2 separate regions of the Homo sapiens genome follow, and region 1 is linked to region 2. The links come from fine-mapping of genetic effects on gene expression. A gene starts in region 2. The other region holds a variant in brackets. All regions are shown on one strand. Distances are between the middles of the regions. Region 1 holds the start of CFAP126 (cilia and flagella associated protein 126). Region 2 holds the start of DUSP12 (dual specificity phosphatase 12).

Region 1 (11,288 bases), 380 kb before region 2:
GTACCATTTGGGTGATTGAAGCATGGTAGTGGGTGGGTGGGGGGTGTGACAGAGCATCATGTTTGTTATTCTGCCTTAAATTTCTACTTACTGTCTTTTTCTTCTCTGTCTTCCAATCACTTTAATATCTTCAATTTTCAAACTATATTTGTACTTGGGCTTAGATAGAAAGTCTTACACAAGCATAGTATCTTCTACTTTGGTTTTCCCTACCTTTTCTTCCCCACCTTCTCCAAACACACATATACATACTCTACTCAATTCTATTTCTGATTTTGTAGTTGTTAGTTGTCCATGCTCAGGATAAAAAATGAGTGGGTAGGGTTGAGGGACTGGTTCTTTGAGGTTCTGCCCTTTTTCCATGATTCAGACCAACTTTCTCTTGGTCATTTCTGGAGTATAACTGACTCAATTCTTGTAAAAATGTGTTCCACCCAAACCACTGTATGTTCTTTTCCCTACTTTATTTTCTCCTACCTTCCTTCTCCTAATTGTGTTACAAGAGGCAGCCATAGCAAGAATGGAAAATCCAGATCAGTAAAAGATTCAACAAAAAAAAGTTTATTTTCCAAATTTGCTTTTACTCCCACCCCAAAATTTCCCTGTTTCACAGTTCTGACTGGGGGCTCTTGTTTATTTCACTGAGTCGCTATACGGGTTTTTCAGTGTGTGGCCACTTGGTCCATATGAAGTTCCAGGTTTGTATTTCTGGACCTCAGCTAGATTAGGCCCTGCCCAGAGTTCTAGCATACGTGGACTTCCAGGTGGGCTCTTAGGATTTGGCTGGTCTTTGGGGACCTGGAGTATGACCTGCAGAGGGGTGTGAGCTTTGGAGTTCATCTGGGGAATTGAGGTTGGCAGCTGGGGAGCTTGGAATTATGGTTGGACTTCGTGCTTGTTGTACAGTCTTTGTGATAGACTTCTTTCTGAGTTTCTTCTGACTGTCTGGATCATGGGGCTGTCAGTGATAAGAGTGGGAGAGATAGTCATGTCTCTGGTCAGGCCCGGATCATTCCTAATGCACCTCAGGATTCTAACTCCCTTTCTCCCCATACCATGGGCAGTAGATCAAGTTTCAAATAAGAAAAGTTAAATTTGATTTCTCTAACCACCCTCCCCCACCTTGAGATTAGATCATTTTCTACTGTTGGGGGTATGATGTCCTTAGCCCATCCCTTCAGGCCTCAGAAGGTGATTAAGGACTAGTCAAGATAAGACAAATTGGTTAGAGGTCCCCCATGCTGGGATAGTGGTGGCATAACAATAGACATTTTTTGAGGTTGAAAAGAAATTGAGACTACAGGGTTTTGGGTTAGATGGGAAGAATAGATACCTTGCCTAAGATTTCAGGACACAGCCCATTGGAGGCCTTGAGTAAATCAGGATTTTTCTGTATCCATTTGGTGAGGGAGGCAGCACCAGCAGTTGTACGGGAGGTCAGGGTCACCCGAGCAGGGGGTATCTTCAGAGGCATTTGCCAGGTGCCCATGAAGGAACCCCAAGGATTTGCCTAAAAATGAAAAGGGATTCCTCAGTAGGGCTTCTCACTCCCAGTAACTGACTTAGACCTCTGTATTATTTCCTTTCTTTACCTTTAGGAATGCATGGTTATGAAACAAGACTGAAAGCATAATCTTCCCACCCTTCCTTATCCCCCTCCCTCATTTAGGCTTTGCAGGCCTAATTTTTTCATCCCCTTTACTCTGCCAACTTAAATTCCACATCCTTAGGCCGAGTGTGGCAAAGGAGTACCCACTGCACAAATGTCATCACCTGAAGGCTTTCATTTATACAGATCATTGATCAATTTAAGAACTTCTGAAGGGTGCTAAACACAACTCTATCCTGCTGGGTAAGCTGGCCGGAAGTTCAGGGGCTCTCACATTACAACATGAATTAGATTAAACTTTAATTTTCCCGATAATGGCTGTGAGAGACTGCACATCTCCCAGTTCTGTGCCTTAATTATTTGACTTTCTTGATAGGAGTGAAGATAGTATCTCACCTTGGAACGGGGCACAGAAGGCAGTAGATGACCACGATCGTTGGCAATAATTTGAGTGTAGCCTTCATGAGAAGAGATGCTCTGGGGTACAAGTGGGAGAGATAAAGGTTTGTGAGGGGAAAAAGGGAAGTATTTGGGGAGCTTGGTCAGAGAAGGATATGGGAGTTTAGAGAATGCTAAAAGGAGTTAATTGACAGGGAGAGCATGAGGCTATCTTGTAGGTGCACTGAACATGGAATACCTCTTTTGTTGGCTTAGTGGGAGACCAGTTCTGCAGATACTTGGATGAGAAAGCCTTTTCATACTGTGGAGAGAAAGATAAGTAGCCCTATGAGACTTCAAGGCCCCAAACCCAGGAAATGAAGACTAGGCACAATTCTTTAGATTTGAAGACCAAAGGCCTGACCAACCATGTAGGCTTTAAGTCACTATGACAAGGGTGTAATTTGTTTGGTCTAGATGTGTGCTGTCCAGCATGGAGCCGGGAGCCACATGGAGCTGTTGAGCACCTGAAATATGACTAGTTCAAATTGAGGTGCTTTGTAAATATGAAATATGCTGAATTTTTAAGTTTTTTTCTTTTCTTTTTTTTTTTGAGATAGGATCTTGGTCTGCCACCTGGGTTGGAGTCAGTGGCATGATCCTAGCTCACTGCAGCCTTGGACACCTGGGTTCAAGCGATCCTCCTCCCTCAGACTCACAGGTAGCTGGGACTACAGGTGCATGCCACCATGTCCAGCTAATTTTTAAATTTACTTGTAGAGACGAGGTCTCACCATATTGCCCAGGGTGGTCTCAAACCCCTGGCCTCAAGCGATCCTTGTGCCTCAGCCTCCCAAAGTGTTGGGATTACAGACGTGAGCTACAACACCCAGCAGGTTTTGGAGATTTAGTACAAAAAAAGAACGTAAAATGTCTGATTATAATTTTTTAAATACTGATTAAATGTTGAAATAATATTTGGATTTATTGGGTTAAATTCAATATATTTAAATTTTATGTTTTAATTTTTTCATGTAGCTACTAGAAAATTTAAAATTACATTTGTGGGTCGCACTCTTTTTGTTGGGCAGCACTGGTCTAGATCAGGAGTTGGTAAACTATGGCCTATGGGCCATATCCATATTGCTGCCTGTTTGGGGATGGCCTGAGAGTAAGGGTGATTTTTATAGATGAACATTTACAATTGATTCAGTCAAATGGAACACTAACTTTGAATCCCAGTTAAGTGAAATGTTTTCTCAACCCCCAAAATTCCATTATTTTCATTAGTAGTACAAAAAATTGTACTCAGTTATATTTTGAATTTGTCAAAAATGTTATGGAAAAATGTTTTTCTTTAATTATGCAAGTAGCTACAGAATATTTTTGACTTTGCCACTTGGCCTGCAAAGCCTAAAATTTTTACACTCCGCCCTTTTACAGAAAAAAAATTGCCAACTTCTGGTTTACACCCTACAAATTTAACCAAGAGATACCTTTGGATCGCCCCTGGGCTCTCTCTATCCCTGAGGAGGTAAAATATTATCTCACTCCACTCTCAGCTATCTGTTCAAAGATCAGAATCCTATGAGAGGGGACAGTCCAAAGATAGAATCTGAAAAACAAAAGTAAACGTTAAAGAAATGGAGAATGGGAACTTACCTGGTTGGCACTGTAGTTAGTGGCCATGATCTTGTGCTGTTTACACTCGTTGCTTGGCAACTGCAGAAGGCCGACCTCCTGGGACTACCAATGAGCAGAGGCTGCCTTTCTCTTCTGCTTATTATTATTCACTTCCTTGGCTCACACTGCCCCCATTTGTTTTCTCTGGAACTTAGATTCATTTTTATTTTACAGACGGGAAAGACTGAGTAAATGTGAGAAAATTAGCTGAATAGCCACTACTTTTTTTCTGGCATAACCTACCCCTGCTTAAGAACTTCCACGGGCCTTTGATTGGGGTTTTTAACCACTTTAACAAACCATGTAACCCTGAGAGCTATGCTTGTTGGACAACATGGTGTAATGTACCACAGGCTGTAGAGCCAGATACTGGGGTTTGAATCCTTATTCAACATGGGAACATAGGAGCTATATGACATTAAACAACTGTCTTGTCTTCACTAAATTTCTATCAACTCATTTGTATTGTGGGGATAATAGAGCCTGCTTTTACAGGGTAAGTGAGATAAAATGAATAAAGTGTCTAGACAATATCATAGCATAGTAGGTATTCAATCCTGGTGAGATCCTGTTTATAAGGCCCACTACTTTGTCTTATCAGGCAGAATAACAAAGGAACAATATTTAAAAAGCAACTAGCTCAAATCTGTCCCCAGAAGGAAAAACATATCTTGTCCTTGGTCCTTAAAAAATTTCCTCTGTCACTGTCTAGAATCAGCACCTAAGAACACAGGCGTTTAGTGTTGACTGGAATAAAATGGAATCGGGTGCTGGTGCAGGGAGATTGAGCAGGGATGAAGAGAGAAAATCACAGAGTGGAAAGGATCAGGTTTGGAGAGTTCAATGGGGGGCTGCCAGGACATAAGCCTAATATGTGTGGGACAAGGAAACCCCTCTGAAACTCATAAAATGGTATTGTAATACCCATCTATGAGGTGGTTAGGAGAATTAATAAGTAAGTAGAACTGTGCTTTGTGAATTGTAAAGTGAATTTATATATAAGGTGTCAAGATGAAAGGGAAAAACTAAGAAATAAGTTGCCCAAAGATATCATTAGGACCAGGAGA[C/A]CATTATAAAGTATATCCAGGCCGGGCACGGTGGCTCATGCCTGTAATCCCAGCACTTTGGGTGGCCGAAGCAGACGGATCACAAGGTCAGGAGTTCGAGACCAGCCTGGCCAACATGGAGAAACCCTGTCTCTACTAAAAATACAAAAAATTAGCCAGGCATGGTGGTGCATGCCTCTAATCCCAGCTACTCGGGAGGCTGAGGCAGGAGAATTGCTTGAACCCGGGAGGCGGAGGTTGCAATGAGCAGAGATCATGCTACTACTGCACTTCAGCCTGGGCGACAGCGTGAGACTCCGTCTCAAAAAATAAAAAATAAATAAAGTATATCCATCAGTCCCTTCTCTTTTCCTTCTTCCCCCAAAATCCTCATCTTAACCAACACACCAAGTATAAGAGCACTCCTATGCTTCTGCAGATGGAGGGAAGAACAGCTCTTGTTTTATAGGCTCTGGAGTTAATACCTGGATAATGTGAGATCTGGAAAGATAACTCATGAGCTTAGTCCCTGTGGTTCTTATCACTCTCTAGAGAAGAGTTCTTTAAGGACCAAGGACTATCTTTGCTCTAGGATATCCATTTTGGCCCTTTAATCTGCAATGATAGGCTAGCATTATTTCTCTTAGAATTTGTCTTCAGTTGGTATGCCTCCCTCTGCCTTTCTGATAGGAATGTAATGATAAATGATGACTGCACTCATTTTTAAAAGTTAACCAGTTTTTGTTCAATTGAAAAAGTAATGTACATGGAAAAAATTTCATGTTTACAGGATGTTCAGTGAAAAGCAAATCTCCATTTGATTTCAACTCTCAGTCTTGCTCCTCAGGGCAACTGCTGTTACTCATTTCTTGTGTCTCCTTCCAGAAATCTTCTCTGCATACAAACACTAATGAGAGAGCTGTCCACATTGCTTTTTGATTTGCTTTTTGACTATCTTGGGGATTATGTTTTTATCATAATATTCCATTTTGGGATGCACCATAGTTTGTTCAGACCCATATGGATGACCATTTAGTTTATTTATAGTCTTTTGCTAATAAGGACATTGCTGTAATGAAAAATCCCTATGTATCTTTATGAATATGTATGTATGTATTTTTATGTACATATGTGATCTGTAGGATAAATGTTTTAAAGTACATTGCAAAGTCAAAAGGGTTTGTGCATTTAAAATAAGTAGATAGGCCGGGTGCGGTGGCTCACATCTGTAATCCCAGCACTTTGGGAGGCTGAGGCGGGCGATCACGAGGTCAGGAGATCGAGACCATCCTGGCTAACATGGTGAAACCCCATCTCTACTAAAAATACAAAACATTAGCTGGGCGTGTGGCGGGGGCCTGTAGTCCCAGCTACTCAGGAGGCTGAGGCAGGAGAATGGCGTGAACCCAGGAGGCGGAGCTTGCAGTGAGCCACGATCGCGCCACTGCAGTCCAGCCTGGGAGACAGAGCGAGACTCCGTCTCAAAAATAAATAAATAAATAAAATAAAATAAGTAGATAATGTCAAATTACCACTGAAAGACATTGTGCCAGTTTGTACTTCTACCAGTGGTGTATGATGGCGTATGAGTGCCTAGTTCTCTGCTTTCTTTTCAACATCATCGTTTTTTCTTTTTTTTTCAGTTTAAACCAATTTTAATTGAACTAATAGAATTGAACTAATAGAACTAATTGATTGAACTAGTAGAACTAATGTTAACTGAGCAGTTACTATATACATGCCAGGCACAGTTCTAATTGCTTTACTACATTTTCTCATTTAGTTCTCAACCCAACCAAGGAAACTGGAGAATACACAGTGAGGAGTAGAGCCAGGATTTAATCCCAAGTATTCTGACTCTAGAGCCAGCAGTTTTAACCATTATATCATATTGCTTGTTAAGCTGTAGGTTAAACATGGTATATAATTTTATTTTTTGTTTTTGTTTTGAGACGGTCTCCCTGCCGCCTAAGCTCTGGAGTGCAGTGGTTCCATCAATATCCTGAGGTCAAGCAATCCTCCCACCTTAGCCTCCCAAGTAGTTGGGAGTATAGGCATGAGCTACCATGCCCAGCTAATTTAAAAAAACAAATTTTTTTTAAGAGATAGGGTCTTAACTATATTGTTCCTCTTGTCTTGAATTCATGGCCTCAAGTGATTCTTCGACCTCTGGAAGTGTTGAGATTACAGGCACGAGCCACCACACCCACCCAACATGGTATATCATTGTTTTAAATTTGCATTTCTTTAATTAGGGTGTTTTTATATGTGTATAAACTGTTTTTATTTTAATTTTTTTCCCTGAAAATGGCCTTTAATGTATTTTGCCACTTACTATTGGGCTGTTGACTTTTTTTTTTGAAACCAGTCCTCCCTCTGTCACCCAGGCTGGAGTGCAGTGGCATCATCTTGGTTCACTGTAACTTCTGCCTCTCAGGTCCAAACAATCCTCCCACCTCAGCCTCCCGAATAACTGGAACTACAGGGATGCACCACCACACCCAGCTGATTTTTTAATTTTTTTTGTAGAGATGGGATTTTGCCATGTTGCCCAGGCTGGTTTTGAACTCCTGGGCTCAAGCCATCTGCCCACCTCAGCTTCCCAAAAAGCTGGGATTACAGGCTTGAGCCACTGCACCCAGCCTGTTGATCATGTTCATTAATCTGTTTGAACTCCATATATTAAGGAAATTAGTCCTTTGTCAAATATGTTGCAAATATTCCCTCCAATTTGTCACTTACTTTCATTTTGTTGGTGGTTTTTCTGTTTTGTTGTTGTTTTTCTGTGGGTTTTTTTTTTTTTTTTTGCCATGGACATGTTTTTAGTACTTATGTAGTAGTCAGATGTATTACTCATTTTTTCTGTGCTCTGGATCTTATGCTTTGAATGGCTTTTTGTGAATTCCAATATTTTAAAAATAATTTACCCCTAGCTTCAGTTCTTACATTTAAATATTTGTTCCTTCTGGAATTTTAGTGAATGTGGACAAGGTTATGCTTCAGTTGCCTTAACTAGTTGCCTTGGCATCATTAATAAGTTTTCTTTTCCTCTACTGATTTGAAATGCCATTTTTAATGTATTCCCTAACATATTTGGGTCTGTTTCTGGATCCTCTAACCCACTGTTCTAGAGAGAAAGGTGATCGTTTTAGATTATTTGTCTCTCTGTAATCTAAAATCCAAGGTACACGCTGGGCACAGTGGCTCACACGTGTAATCCTAGCACTTTCGGAGGCTGAGGCAGGTGGAACAGTTGAGGACAGAAGTTCGAGACCAGCCTGACCAACATGGCGAAACTCTGTTTCTACTAAAAATACAAAAATTAGCTGGGCATGGTGACACGTGCCTGTAGTCCCAGCTACTCGGGAGGCTGAGGCAAGAGAATCGCTTGAACCCGGGAGGTGGAGGTTGCAGTGAGCCGAGATTGCGCCACTGCACTCCATCCCCCGGGCGACAGAGTGAGACTCCATCTCAAAAAAAAGAAAAAAAAAGGCCAGGCGCGGTGACTCACGCCTGTAATCCCAGTACTTTGAGAGGCTGAGACGGGAGGATCACGAGATCAAGAGATGGAGACCATCCTGGCCAACATGGTGAAACCCCGTCTCTACTAAAAATACAAAAATTAGCTGGGCGTAGTGGCGCGCGCCTGTAGTCCCAGCTACTCCAGAGGCTGAGGCAGAAGAATCGCTTGAACCCGGGAGGCGGAGGTTGCAGTGAGCCGAGATTGCGCCACTGTGCTCCAGCCTGGCGACAGAGTGAGACTCCGTCTAAAAAAAAAAAAAAAAAAATCCAAGGTGGAGTCCTGGCTTGATCCTATGTGAATTCTAATATTTAAGATTTCAGGCCGGGCGCGGTGGCTCAGGCCTGTAATCCCAGCACTTTGGGAGGCCCAGGGGGGTGGATCACAAGGTCAGGAAATCGAGAGCATGCTGGCTAACACGGTGAAACTCCGTCTCTGCTAAAAATACAAAAAATTAGCCCGGCGTGGTGGGGGGTGCCTGTAGTCCCAGCTACTCGGGAGGCTGAGGCAGGAGAATGGCGTGAACCCGGGAGGTGGAGCTGGCAGTGAGCCGAGATCGCGCCACTGCACTCCAGCCTGGGCGACAGAGCGAGACTCCGTCTCAACAAAAAAAAGATTTCACTAGGAAATTGTAATATCAGTAGTAACAGGCAATTTTAAGCTTCTAATAAAAGTGTATTGAATTTTAGCCTTTCTTCAGATGAACTGGTTGACTTCAGGTACAGCAGATGGTCTTTTACTAGGACCAGATTTACTTCTTCCAAAGTTGGAAGGGCTCTTTAAAGGCCCCATCCTTTACGTATGCCTTAAGATACTTTTTTCCATTCACTTAAATTCTTTGATGACTGAAACTAAACCATTAGGAAATCTTTTATTTGGACTGAGATTATCTGCTATTGAAGTACAAGTTTAACCTGTACTCTATAGGCGATGTGTACATTGGACCTACGTGAAGGCAACCACCAGCATAAGTACTAGAGTCACATTGCCTGGATTAAATTCTGGCTTTGCCTAAATGTGTGGCCTTACACAAGTTAATCTTTCTGGGTCTCAGTACCCTTACATGTAAAATGGGGATAATCTTAGTTTTGAGCATTAAATATATGTAACATGCTAATAGGGTGCAAGATGCATAATGAATGCTCAATTATTTTAGCATTATTATTGGCTTAAGACTGCCAAGTAAGAAGTACTCATTCAGGTTACCTTAAACAAAAAAGGGGAAGTGGGGAAATTATAATTAATAGGAGTATTTAACAGATTCCAAAGGTAGGAAGTATAGTTTGGGCTTCAAAGGATACTAGAATTTCAAAGATAGAACATGATCAGAAAGATTTTCTGTTTCTTCTTTATCATCTCTGTTTCTCACTGCCTTTATTCTTTTCTTTTCTTTTTTTTTTTTTTTTTGAGATGGAGTTTCGCTCTTGTTGCCCAGGCTGGAGTGCAATGTGCGATCTCGGCTCACCGCAACCTCCGCCTCCCGGGTTCAAGCGAGCGATTCTCCTGCCTCAGCCTCCCGAGTAGCTGAGATTTTAGGCATGCACCACCACACCCGGCTAATTTTGTATTTTTAGTAGAGACAGGGTTTCTCCATGTTGGTCAGGCTGGTCTCGAATGCCTGACCTCAGTTGATCCGCCCACCTCAGCCTCCCAAAGTGCTGGGATTACAGGCGTGAGCCACCGCGCCCGGCCTCCCATGGCAATTTTTAAAACCAGAAAAAATTATTAGTAACCCCTTCATAGTAAAAATGGGGCATTTATCTCATCTATTACACAGTGTAACCACCTGAATCACTGTCTCTAGTTATACCATCAGCTCTCTACTAAGGTTTCTTCTAAGTAGCTCCAAGGTGCCCTCCATGTCACCTCACTGGGTCAGGTGTTGATGGGTCTTGGATAGGAGACCTGGCTTTTGCCCCATTTCCTGGGCTAACAGGATTTCATCCAACCAAGCTACTGGCCAAATTTTGAACTATTCAAACACCCTGGTTTTTGTAGATTTCCTTATAGGAAATGAAGGCGTAGTTCTGACCCCTGAAGAGATGCATGGCTACAAATGTAAAAGCTATAGTTTCAAAACTTCTCTATAGAGTTAAAATAGCTGATCCAGTTTTCTTTCCTGAGACTAAGGCTCCCTCTCTCGGAGACTGCTGTTACATCTCTCCTTTCCACTGACAATACCACAAAAGAATAATATTCTTGATAAGATCCCCTTCCTGAGGAGCCAAAGAACAAGCTTTGTATACTCCCCACACACTGCCTATGGGGTAGCCCTCTCTGCAGCATTCATAGAGCTATTTAACACTATTTCTTTTTCTTTTCTTTCATTCCTTTTTTTTTTTTTTTTTTTTTGAGACAGAATCTTGCTCTGTTGCCCAGGCTGGAGTGCAGTGGCACCATCTCAGCTCACTGCAACCTCCGCCTCCCAGGTTCAAGTGATCCTCCTGCTTCAGCCCCCCTCCATAGCTGGGATTATAGGCACACACCAGCATGCCCTGCTAATTTTAGTATTTTTAGTAGAGACAGGGTTTCGCCATGTTGGCCAGGCTGGTCTGGAACTCCTGACGTCAGGTGATCCACCTGCCTTGGCCTCCCAAAGTCGTTGGATTACAGGCGTGAGCCACTGTGCCTGGCCTATAACACTATTTCTTAAAACAAAACAAAAAGACCAAAGAACAAGCTTTAAACAACCAAAATGACTGAAAAGACATCAGTATCTCTCACTAGTGGTGTGAATTAAGTTTGTTTACTTGCATAACTAAGAATAAATGATGGTTATAATGGCACCAGTATAGGATATCTTGGCTATGTGCTTTAACAATATACAGGTTGACCATGAAGTCTGGAAATAGATACTATTATTTTATCATGTATTTAAATATATTAATAAACCATTAATATGTATTCATTAACTTTTCCACATTTCTTGGCAATCTTGTAAATATAGTACAACTATCAGTAAAGAGAGATTAGGGGGCTGGGCACGGTGGCTCACGCCTGTAATCCCAGCTTTTTGGGAGGCTGAGGCAGCGGATCACTTGAGGTCAGGAGT
Region 2 (11,288 bases):
AAAAAAAAAAAAAAAAAAAAAAATTAGCCAGGCAGGGTTGTGCGCACCTGCAATCCCAGCTACTTGGGAGGCTGAGAATATCTTGAACTGAGGAAGAAGAATAGCTGAGGCAGGAAAATAGCTTGAACCCAGGAGGTGGAGGTTGCAGTGTGCTGAGATCGCACCACTGCACTCCAGCCTGGGCGACAGAGCAAGACTCCATCTCAAAAAGAAAAAAAAAAAATGATGATGATGATGATGATTGGATCTCTTTTTTATCTCTTTTCTGAGGGTCATATCCCAGTCTCCAGCCAGCCCAGCCAATGATGACATTTACTTTTCTCCAAACTGTCCCTCCTCCTTTGTTCCCCATCTTGGTGAATGAAATCATCATCCACTCAATCACTCAAACTAGAAATAAAGTTATCTCTTATTCCTCCCTCTTTCCTCTCTCATATCCATTTGGTCTCTAAGCCTCCTCCCTTCTGCCTTTTTAATCGCTCTTAAACACATTCCCTTCCTCTGTGTTTCCTCTACCAGCACCCTTCATTCCTTGACTCAATTATTGCCTTAATTCTTAACCAGACTCTGCCTCTAGAATTGTCCTCCCAGCCTATTCCACACACTGTAGTCAGGGTTGTTTTCTAAAATACAAATCAAGTGGCATTATTCTGCTGCTTAAACTTCTTTAGCATTTGCACGATCTTTAGGAAAAATTTAAAACTTCTTAGCAAGGCATACGTTGCCCTTATGATCTGGTCATGCCTATCTTTCCAGTGTCCTGAAAGCAACTGTGAACACCATCTGCATCATCCTTCTTTCTCCCTTTTCCAACAACACATTTACACTTCGATGGGGCTTTCTGGCCTTTGTGCCTTTGAAGATGTTGGTCCTTCCGGTTAGAACTTCTTTCCTCATCTCCCTCCTTTTTCCCTGACAAATTCCCACTCATCCTTCAAGATGCAGATCAAGCATCACCTCCTCTGGGAGGCCATCCCTAATTACCCTCCTTCCATTAGGATTGGATGCCTCCATGTGCTCCCTTAGTACACGGCCCTTGCCTCTACTATAACACTAATTAGCTATTTACTTACTTTCACTCCAGCATTTCACCAAGTTCCTTGAGGGCAAAGACTGTCATACATCTTTATATCCTCAGCATCTACAGTCGTGCCTTATTTTACTTAGCATAATGTCCTCAAAGTTTTTATTGTTGTTGAGATGGAGTCTTGCTCTGTCACCCAGGCTGGAGTGCAGTGATGCGATCTCGGCACGCTGCAACCTCCACCTCCGGGGTTCAAGGGATTCTCCTACCTCAGCCTCCTGAGTAGCTGGATTACAGGCATGCACCACCATGCCCAGCTAAGGTTTTGTTTTCATTTTTGTTTTTTAGGATGGAGTCTCGCTCTGTTGCCCACGCTGGAGTGCAGTGGCATGAGTTCAAGGGGGTTCAAGTGATTCTCCCGCCTCACCCTCCCAAGTAGCTGGGATTACAGGCGCCTGCCACCATGCCTGGCTAATTTTTGTATTTTTAGTAGAGATGGGGTTTCACCATGTTGGCCAGGCTGGTCTTGAACTCCGGACCTCAGGTAATCTGCCTGCCTTGGCCTCCCAAAGTGCTGGGATTACAGGTGTGAGCCACTGGGCCCCGCCTTTTTTTTTTTTTTTTTTTGTATTTTTAGTAGAGACAGGTTTTCGCCATGTTGGCACGGCTGGTCTCAAACTCCTGACCTCAGGTCATCTGCCAGCCTCAGCCCCACAAAGTGCTGGGATTACAGGCATGAGCCACCGTGCCCGACCTCAAAGATAATCTATGTTGTAGCATGTGACAGAATTTCCCTCTTTTTATATGGCTGAATAATAGTTCATCATATGCATATACCATCTTTCTTTCTTTCTTTCTCTTTTTCTTTCTTTCTTTCTTTTCTTTTTCTCTTTCTTTCTCTCTCTCTTTCCTTCCTTCCTTCCTTCCGTCTTCCTTCCATCCTTCCTTCCTTCCTTCCTTCCTTCTCTCTCTCTCTCTCTTTCTTTCTTTCTTTCCTTTTTGGAGACAGAGTCTCGCTCCATCCCTTAGGCTGGAGTGCAGTGGCATGATCTTGGCTCACTGCAACCTCCGTCTCCTGGGTTCAAGCGAGTCTCCTGCCTCAGCCTCCCGAGTACCTAGGATTACAGGCACCCACCACCATGCCCAGCTGATTTTTGTATTTTTAGTAGAGATAGGGTTTTGCCATGTTGGCCAAGCTGGTCTTGAATTCCTGGCCTCAGGTGATCCACCTGCCTCGGCCTCCCAAAGTGCTAGGATTACAGACGTGAGCCACCGCGCCCGGCCCATACCACATTTTCTTTATCCATTAATCCATGATGGACATTTGGGTTACTTCTACCTTTTTGCTATTGTGAATAATGTTGCCATAAATATGGGTGTGCAAATATCTTTGAGATCCCACTTTCAATTCTTTTGGCTATATAACCTAGAAGTGAGATTGCTGGATCATGTGGTAATTCTATTTTTAATCGTTTGAGGAAACTCCGTACTGTTTTCCCTGGTGGGTGCACCATTTTACATTCCCTTCAGCAATGCATAAGCGTTCCAATTTTTCCACATCCTTGCTAACACTTATTTTCTGTGCTTGAAAAAAATACTAGCCATCCTAATGGGTGTAAGATGATATTATTATTGTAGTTTTGATTTGCATTTCTCTAATGATTAGCAATTTGAGCATCTTTTCCTATGCTTTTTGGCCTCTTGTATATCTTCTTTGGAGGAATGTCTATTCAGGTCGTTTGCCCAGTTTTTTGAAAATTGGGTTACTTGTTTTTCTGTTGTCGAGTTGTAGGAGTTTTTTATATGTTCTGCATATTAACGTATCAGATATATGCTTTGCAATTATTTTTTCCCATTCCATACAAATTCCTTTTCTCTCTATTGACTGTTTTGCTTGATATGCAGACACTTTAAAATTTGATATAGTCCCATTTGTCTATTTTCGCTTTTGTTGCCTGTGCTTTTGGTATTTTATCCAAAAAATTGAGGGAGAAGAAAAGGAAAAATCAGTTAGGTAGACAGCTAAGGCTAGCCCTTGGAGAAGCAGTCTGCCTGAAAAATCACAGCTACAAACAAAATAGAGCAGCTTAGGCAAAACTCAGGCTGCACCTGCACAGATAAGCAGGTAGGGTCCAGCACAGACGCTTTTCATTCTTCGTGTAATTGGCGAGCTCCCAGGAAAAACTTTCCTCCCCTTTTCAGGTATATACACAGTGGACTCCGTGGGAACTTGCACAGGAAGGAGGGGGGCTTACCTAAAACAAACCTACAGTGATACAAACAAGAGAACCCACGCTTTGTGCTTGCCTAGAGACATACCCACATCGGCAGAAGATAAGGGAAGTTGCACAGACAGATTTATTCATAAGAGAAGTTACTCAAACAACTATAGAGATGAGAGGAGTTTCTTATAATAGGTTTTGAATTCAGCTGTAAAAATGGCACCCCACTTGGGCTCCCCTCTCTGCTGTGGAGAGCTTTCTTCTTTTGCTTATTAAACTTTTGCTTCAACCTCACTCTTTGTGCCCATGCTCCTTAGTTTTCTCGGTCGTTAGACAAGTTCGGATAACACCTTAGACAATGAGACCATTAACCCTTACCTGTTTCAACATTTTTATCAAATCCAAGGCCATGAAGCTTTCCCCCTATGTTTTCTACTAAGAATGTTATATTTTTAGGTCTTTAATCTATTTGGAGTTATTTTTTGTGTATGGTCCAAGGTAAAGGTCCATCTTCATTCTTTTGCATGTGGATATCTAGTTTTTCCCAACACTGTTGAGGAGATTGTCCTTTTTCCATTGTGTGGTCTTGGCACTCTTTTTGAAGATTATTCTAACATATATGCAGTGTTGCAGGTGATTAGCAGCTTTCTGGGCTGGTGACATGGGTGGTAGGAAGAATTTACCAACACAGTTGTAGGTAAAGAAAGGCAGGTTTATTAGATAAAGTATGAAAATACATTGCAAGGGTGCAACAGGCAGGTCAGCAAGAGAGAAGCTGACTGCTAGGAAACAAAGGCTTGCTGGGGATTTTGTAGAATGGTGCTTATGTTGTGGGTGGAAGAGGGCTTTGTGCAGTACTAATAATGCCAGGGTTGCAGTGAACTAACTTCCATTTTTCTATCAGCTGAGGGTCTGGTGATGGCTGGGCACAGGCAGATTGTGAGTTATTTGCACAGCAGGGCTATGTGTCCTGGACCACGAAGAAAGGCAGACTTATGGCTTGTCTGCTTTCTCCTTTTGCTTCCCTTCGTCCAGCCAGCCTGACTCCTTTTCCCTAATTAGGACTCCACACGCAAGGGTTTGTTCTGTTCCAGAATAGAGACACGTCGATGTATCTATCTTTATACCAGTACTATAGCTGCTACTTCTTGACCAATTACAGCTTTAGTATCTCTCTCACCTGTCCTCCCTATACAAAAGATATATAAAATATACTCACTGTACTGAGTATCTTCCTGCAGCATTCAGTCTGGAGCAAAGCCTGCTTCCTTCAACCCTTTCCAAAATCCCCAAATAAAAGCCCAAAATCTGTAGAGGATCTTCCTAACATCCTCGTGCTGAGATGCCCTGAAATTCTCCATAACTCATGACTGAGTAATAAAACCAACTTGCTTAATTAAAGTTGGTTTCTTGTAGTCCTGGCCGGAGGACATTGACTTACAAAAATATAGGATTAGTATCTTCAAAATAAATAGACAGTAAACATCAACAAGGATTCACACCCCAATAATGAAATTGGGCAGAAAAAGGAAAAATAATCATGAAATGCACAGTAAAGATGGCTCCATAATATTGAAAAAAATTTTACTTCAAATGCATAAAATGATGCTTCTGATTCAGCTGGTGCGACATTTATTTCACATTTGAGTTCAGCTGCTCCTGATGTCTCTTTCCTGAAAATTTCAATACTAAGAGCTCGAGAAACCCTGTATTTGGGGAAGCTTATCCTTCACCATCAACTTTGGGGGTAGGGGTCAGAGGGAACAAGGGTGGAAAGGCCGCGCTGAATGGGGCCGAAGCTCCGCCCCTCAGCGATAAGTCCAGATTCCTGCGGCCGACGTGGTCCTCCGAGGGAGCAGCAGAGCCGCCGAGGCTGGCGAGTCCCAGGGGAAGGATGTTCTAGCCGGAGTCTACTCGATGGTAGGGCAGGAAGCCGCCTTGTCTCTGGGCGCGGCCATGTTGGAGGCTCCGGGCCCGAGTGATGGCTGCGAGCTCAGCAACCCCAGCGCCAGCAGAGTCAGCTGTGCCGGGCAGATGCTGGAAGTGCAGCCAGGATTGTATTTCGGTGGGGCCGCGGCCGTCGCGGAGCCAGATCACCTGAGGGAAGCGGGCATCACGGCCGTGCTAACAGTGGACTCGGAGGAGCCCAGCTTCAAGGCGGGGCCTGGGGTCGAGGATCTATGGCGCCTCTTCGTGCCAGCGCTGGACAAACCCGAGACGGACCTACTCAGCCATCTGGACCGGTGCGTGGCCTTCATCGGTCAGGCCCGCGCTGAGGGCCGTGCGGTGTTGGTGCACTGGTGAGTGGCCGGGTCAGTGGGTGACGTGCCCCGCCAAGCTTCCAGCCGGCCCCCGTCGCCCCTTACCTTCCGAGGCCGTCGGGAGGACAAGAGCGCGGTCATGCCGCGTGAACCTCCTCCCGCTGCCTCCCGCAGGAGGCGTGTTTCCAAGAGAGGAGGAGGGTTGAGGCGGGCCCCTGGTGTGTGCAGGCTTTCATTCATTCATGCTTTAGTTGGTTCTTCCTGCAGCAGCAGAGGGCGGGGGAGGTGTCATCTGATAAATGACAAATTACCTACACCCTAAGGAGTTTACAGCTCTGTTGGAGAAGCTAGACACCCACCCCGATTATTGTAATGCAGATTAGGTTGCTTGGTGTCTTGTAAACGGGATTTACAAAGATTTAGGGTTAAATGTTTTTGTTTGGGATGGGTGGCGGGTGGTTGATGAAGAGATGAATTGGTTTGGATCTAAAGGATCCCTGGGCTTTGCCTAGGGAGGAGATGGTTGCAGCAAAGACAAAAAGAAAATGGGAATCCCGCAGGGCGCGGTGGCTCACGCCTGTAATCCCAGCACTTTGGGAGGCAGGAGGATCACAAGGTGAGGAGTTCGAGATCAGGCTGGCTAATATGGTGAAACCAAAAATACAAAAATTAGCCGGGCGTGGTGGCTCTCGCCTGTAGTCCCAGCTACTCGGGAGGCTGAGGCAGGAGAATCACTTGAACCTGGGAGGCGGAGGTTGCAGTGAGCCGAGGTCATGCCACAGCACTCCAGCCTGGGCAACAGAGCGAGACTCCATCCCTCCCCCCAAAAAAAGAAAATGGGAATCCCTAAGCAGTTCTTGGTTGGATTGGAGTATAATAATCGTTTAAATTTATTGAGCACATAAAAGAAGATAGTGATGAAATCAAAAGAAGTCTGGGACCAGATTTTGAGGTCCCTGAATGCTAAGATGAAAGGAGATTGGATTTGTTTTTGTTTTGTTTTATTTATTTTTATTTTGATATAGGGTCTTGCTCTGTCACCCAGGCTACAGTGTAGTAGCGTAATTACGGCTCACTGCAGTCTCAACCTCCCAGGCTCAAGTGAACCTCCTGCCTCGGCCTCCAGAGTAGCTGGGACTACAGACCCCACCACATCCGGCTAATTTTTTGTAGAGGTGGGGTCTCACTTTGTTGCCCAGGCTGGTCTCCAACTCTTGGACTCAACCAATCCTCTCACCTCGCCTCCCAAAGTGCTGGGATTTCAGGCGTAGGTAAGCCACTGTGTCTAGCCAGGAGTTTGGATTTGTTCTGAGCCATTATAAAAATTTTAAAAATTACTGTTATTATTTTTGAATAGGTAATAGATTCACGTGGTTCAGAATTCAAAAGGAAAAAGGAATAATTATTTTGTACCTTGATAATATTTCAGAGGCAATGGGCTTATTTGAGAAGCAAAAATGAAGTGGGCCTAAACTTTACTATTAATAGGGGGCTGGGCTTTGTGTGTTTTTTTTTTTAATTGTTGCTATTTGCTGTTTTATTTTAAAGGTCTCTTTTTCAGTCATGCAGGAGTCAGTCGAAGTGTGGCCATAATAACTGCTTTTCTCATGAAGACTGACCAACTTCCCTTTGAAAAAGCCTATGAAAAGCTCCAGATTCTCAAACCAGAGGCTAAGTGGGTTCTTTTTTTATAGTAATAATTATGCTTTTGTGATATAATTTTAAGAAAATGAAACTTTATATTTCTTTATCATTACAGGATGAATGAGGGGTTTGAGTGGCAACTGAAATTATACCAGGCAATGGGATACGAAGTGGATACCTCTAGTGCAATTTATAAGCAATATCGTTTACAAAAGGTTACAGAGAAGTATCCAGGTAAGTAATAATTGCTAGTGTGTAATGGGCTTTCTAGATGACATTTACTTTAGCATTGTATGCTTTACCTTACTTCCAGCAATCCCTGAGAAACTATTGTTTCTTTTTGAAACTGATTTAGCCAGAAATAACCTATTCAAAATCACATGGTTTATAAATGGCAGGGTCAGGATTTGAATTCAGGCAGCCCGTGCCCAGAACCTAAGCACTTAAATCACTGTCCTCTCCTACCTTAGCCTGATTTCTCAACACTGGAATTTGATTTTTTTTTTTTTTTAATTTTTGAGGTTAGCACTTGTTGCCTCAATTTGACATTAACTGAATTTATCTGAAAATGCAGAGTTGATTTTGACAAATAAATACATTTTAATTATGTCATATAGAATTGCAGAATTTACCTCAAGAACTCTTTGCTGTTGACCCAACTACCGTTTCACAAGGATTGAAAGATGAGGTTCTCTACAAGTGTAGAAAGTGCAGGTAAACTATTTTATATCCTTTGGATATTTTATCTTGTCTCAGTAGCTGAAAAGTACTTAATGTTTTATTTTCTTAAATTTCTGTAGGAAGATTTTGTTTAATTGAAATTTTTAGTTCAGATCTGTTTTCAGAAAGAATATAAATTCTTAAAAAGAGAAATAATCAGATTGTAAGGGTTATTGAAAATTTAAGTAGTGTAATCAATGTTACATTATTTTGTTCTCTAAGCAATATTGCACATTTTGCTGGGCGCAGTGGCTCACGCCTGTAACCCCAGCACTTTGGGAGGCCGAGGCAGGCAGATCACCTGAGATTGGGAATTTGAGACCAGCCTGGCCAACATGGTGAAACCCCGTCTCTATTAAAAATACAAAAATTAGTTGGGCATGGTGGCTGGTGCCTGTAATCCCAGCTACTCAGGAGGCTGAGGCAGGAGAATTGGTTGAACCCAGGAGGCGGAGGTTGCAGTGAGCCATGATCACGCCACTGCACTCTAGCATGGGCGACAGAGTGAGACTCTGTCTCAAAAAAAAAAGAAATACCGCACATTTCATCCATGTTTTCATCCTTTTGGAAGTCATTAATGCTTTTGTTTGTTTGGGGGTTGCAGGCGATCATTATTTCGAAGTTCTAGTATTCTGGATCACCGTGAAGGAAGTGGACCTATAGCCTTTGCCCACAAGAGAATGACACCATCTTCCATGCTTACCACAGGGAGGCAAGCTCAATGTACATCTTATTTCATTGAACCTGTACAGTGGATGGAATCTGCTTTGTTGGGAGTGATGGATGGACAGGTGAGAACACATTTTATTTTCTACAATTTTATTTTATGATCTATATTTTATTCCTTCTTGCATTTTAAGCTCTATTTTAACTAGTGTTTTGCTCCATTTCTTAATTTCTTTATTTCTGAAGATTATATCTTTCTAGTGTAGATAAGACTATCAAAAATAAAATATTTTTCAAAAACCAGCTGATCCAACATAGTGAACTACTTCTGGTTGAGAGCCCTGGTCTAAGTTAATAAATTTCCTTTAAGGCTATTTATATTTTTTTCAAATATAAGACTAACATTTATTTTTAAACTAATTAGAATATATTGGCTGGGCACTCTTGCCTCATTAGCTCATGCCTGTAATCTGAGCACTTTGGGAGGCTGAGGCGGGAGGATCACTTGAGCCCAGGGTTTCGAGACCAGCTTGGGCAATATAGTGAGACCTCATCTCTATAAAAGAAAGTAAAAAATTTTTAATAAGAAAAAAAGAAAAGAAAAAATGTATTAAACAAAATTTGAACTTTGTAACAAGATAGGGTAAATCAGGGATTTTAAAATTAGGTTAAAAATTCTGTCTTTCTTTTTCTCTGTTGGCTTCCTGTATGTGTCTTTCTCTTTTTTCTTATCTTTTAGGAGAGTGAAATTTAGTTTGTTTTGCTATGAGATTCTTTTTCATTTCCAGTTAAATAATGCAGCTCATCCTATTGCTCCTGTAACCAGTGGGTAGGGAAATAAAAAAAGAATGCAGTTCATGTGACATTTTACATAAAAAAGTGTTTAACTTGGTTGGAGTGTGCCATGACAGCCACATTTCTCCTTTAGGTTTACTTGATATTAATGTGAAGGTATTCTATAATAATCATCTTAATAATGATTTTGAAAGTTTGTATGGTTTGTATAAAAGTTTGTATAGTGGCTAGTTTATGAAACCCTTTCACTGTATTATACCATTTGAAGAATGCCATAGCTTTATAAAATAGGTAGAGCAGTTATATTCACGTGTTGTGCATGAGGAAACTGTTTATGAGTAGTGTCTTGCCTAGAAAGTGGTACCATATAATCAAACTCACATTTTCGGATAATGCTGCTTTTTTTAAAAAAAACAGCCTTATTATAGTATAATTCACATAACATGCAATTTACCTATTTAAGGTGTATAGTTCAGTGGCTTTTAAAGTGTATTCACAGTGGTTTTTGCAACCATCGTGTATTAGTCTATTTTCACACTGCCATAAAGATAGTACGTGAGACTGGGTAATTTATAAAGGAAGGAGGTTTAATTGACTCATGGTTCTGCATGGTTGGGGAGGCCTCAGGAAACTTATTATCATGGCAGAAGGGAAAGCAGGCCACTTCTTCACAAGGCGGCAGGAGAGAGAAGCATATGTGAAGGAGGAACTGTCAAACACTTATAAAACCATCAGATCTTATGAGTGCTCATTCACTATCACGAGAACAGCATGGGGGTATCTGCCTCCATGATCCAATCACCTCTCTTCTTCCACACTTGGGGATTACAATTTGAGATGAGATTTGGATGGGGACACAGAACCAAACCGTATCACATCACAATTCACATTCCCACTCTTCCCATTCTTTTTTTTTGAGACGGAGTTTCACTCTTGTTGCCCAGGCTGGAGTACAATGGCACAATCTTGGCTCACCACAACCTCTGCCTCCCGGGTTCAAGTGATTCTCCTGCTTCAGCCTCCTGAGTAGCTGGGATTACAGGGATGCGCCACCACGCCTGGCTAATTTTGTATTTTTAGTAGAGACGGGGTTTTTCCATGTTGGTCAGGCTGGTCTCGAACTCCTGACCTCAGGTAATCCACCTGCCTCAGCCTCCCAAAGTGCTGGGATTACAGGCGTGAGCCACCATGCCCAGCTGCAATTCCCATTCTTGATGGTATTATTTGTAGCAGTTAGAGATTTTAATTTTGATGGTATCTAATTTATCAGTTTTTCTTTTTTGTGGCTTGTGATTCTGGCTTTCTAATTTTACTTAACCTGGGAAACACACACACACACTCCAGCCAAGTTAAATACATTTTTATGTAAGATTCTAAATCCTGTGCATACTTATTTGTATACATATTTGATTTTTTTCTGTAGAATATGTACCTAGAAGTGGAATTCCTGGCTCGAAGAATGTATTTTAAATATTAGTGATATTCCAGGCTGATATTCAAAATGCCCATACAAATTTGGTTTTCAGTAACTGAATGCATGTACCCGTTACTCCATATCCTTGACATAATAGATACTATAAAACTGGTAACATTTTGTCAGTCTGTGGGGTAAAAAATGTTAATCCTAAAATGTTTAATTGGAATTTTATGAAAATAGTCATCAACCACCATCTTTATATATTTACCAGCCATTTACTGTTTTCTTTTCTATAAATTGCTTTCATATTCCTAGGCCCATTTGCCTATGGGTTTTGTCTCTTTCTTACTCATTTGTAGGACCTCTATATATTCTAGATGTTAATAGTTCATCTAATATATTGCAACTATTTTCTTCAGTCTATTGCTTATCAGATTTTTTATGTTTTGTCATATTAAAATGAAGGATATTTACATAATAAAATTTGTTAGTTTTTTTATTTATGGCTTCTGAATTTCTTTTTTTTGAGACGGAGTCTT

Evidence for each region.
Region 1: its variant is fine-mapped to the expression of DUSP12 in whole blood (TOPMed, PIP above 0.99).

The regions. Positions count from the first base shown.
Region 1 is chr1:161,364,193-161,375,480 of GRCh38, forward strand. CFAP126 (cilia and flagella associated protein 126) reads right to left here and starts at 3,684. Exons shown (of 5, transcript NM_001013625.4): 1 at 3,650-3,684; 2 at 2,247-2,309; 3 at 2,006-2,086; 4 at 1,334-1,510; 5 at 541-958. The coding sequence starts at 3,676. The coding sequence ends at 773. RefSeq lists an enhancer at 987-1,489. The variant C/A (reference allele first, on the strand shown) is at 4,738.
Region 2 is chr1:161,744,600-161,755,887 of GRCh38, forward strand. It overlaps DUSP12 (dual specificity phosphatase 12), which reads left to right and starts at 5,187. Exons shown (of 6, transcript NM_007240.3): 1 at 5,187-5,546; 2 at 7,069-7,182; 3 at 7,267-7,385; 4 at 7,769-7,865; 5 at 8,476-8,662. The coding sequence starts at 5,203. RefSeq lists enhancers at 3,185-3,264, 3,365-3,414, 4,986-5,495, 5,557-6,203.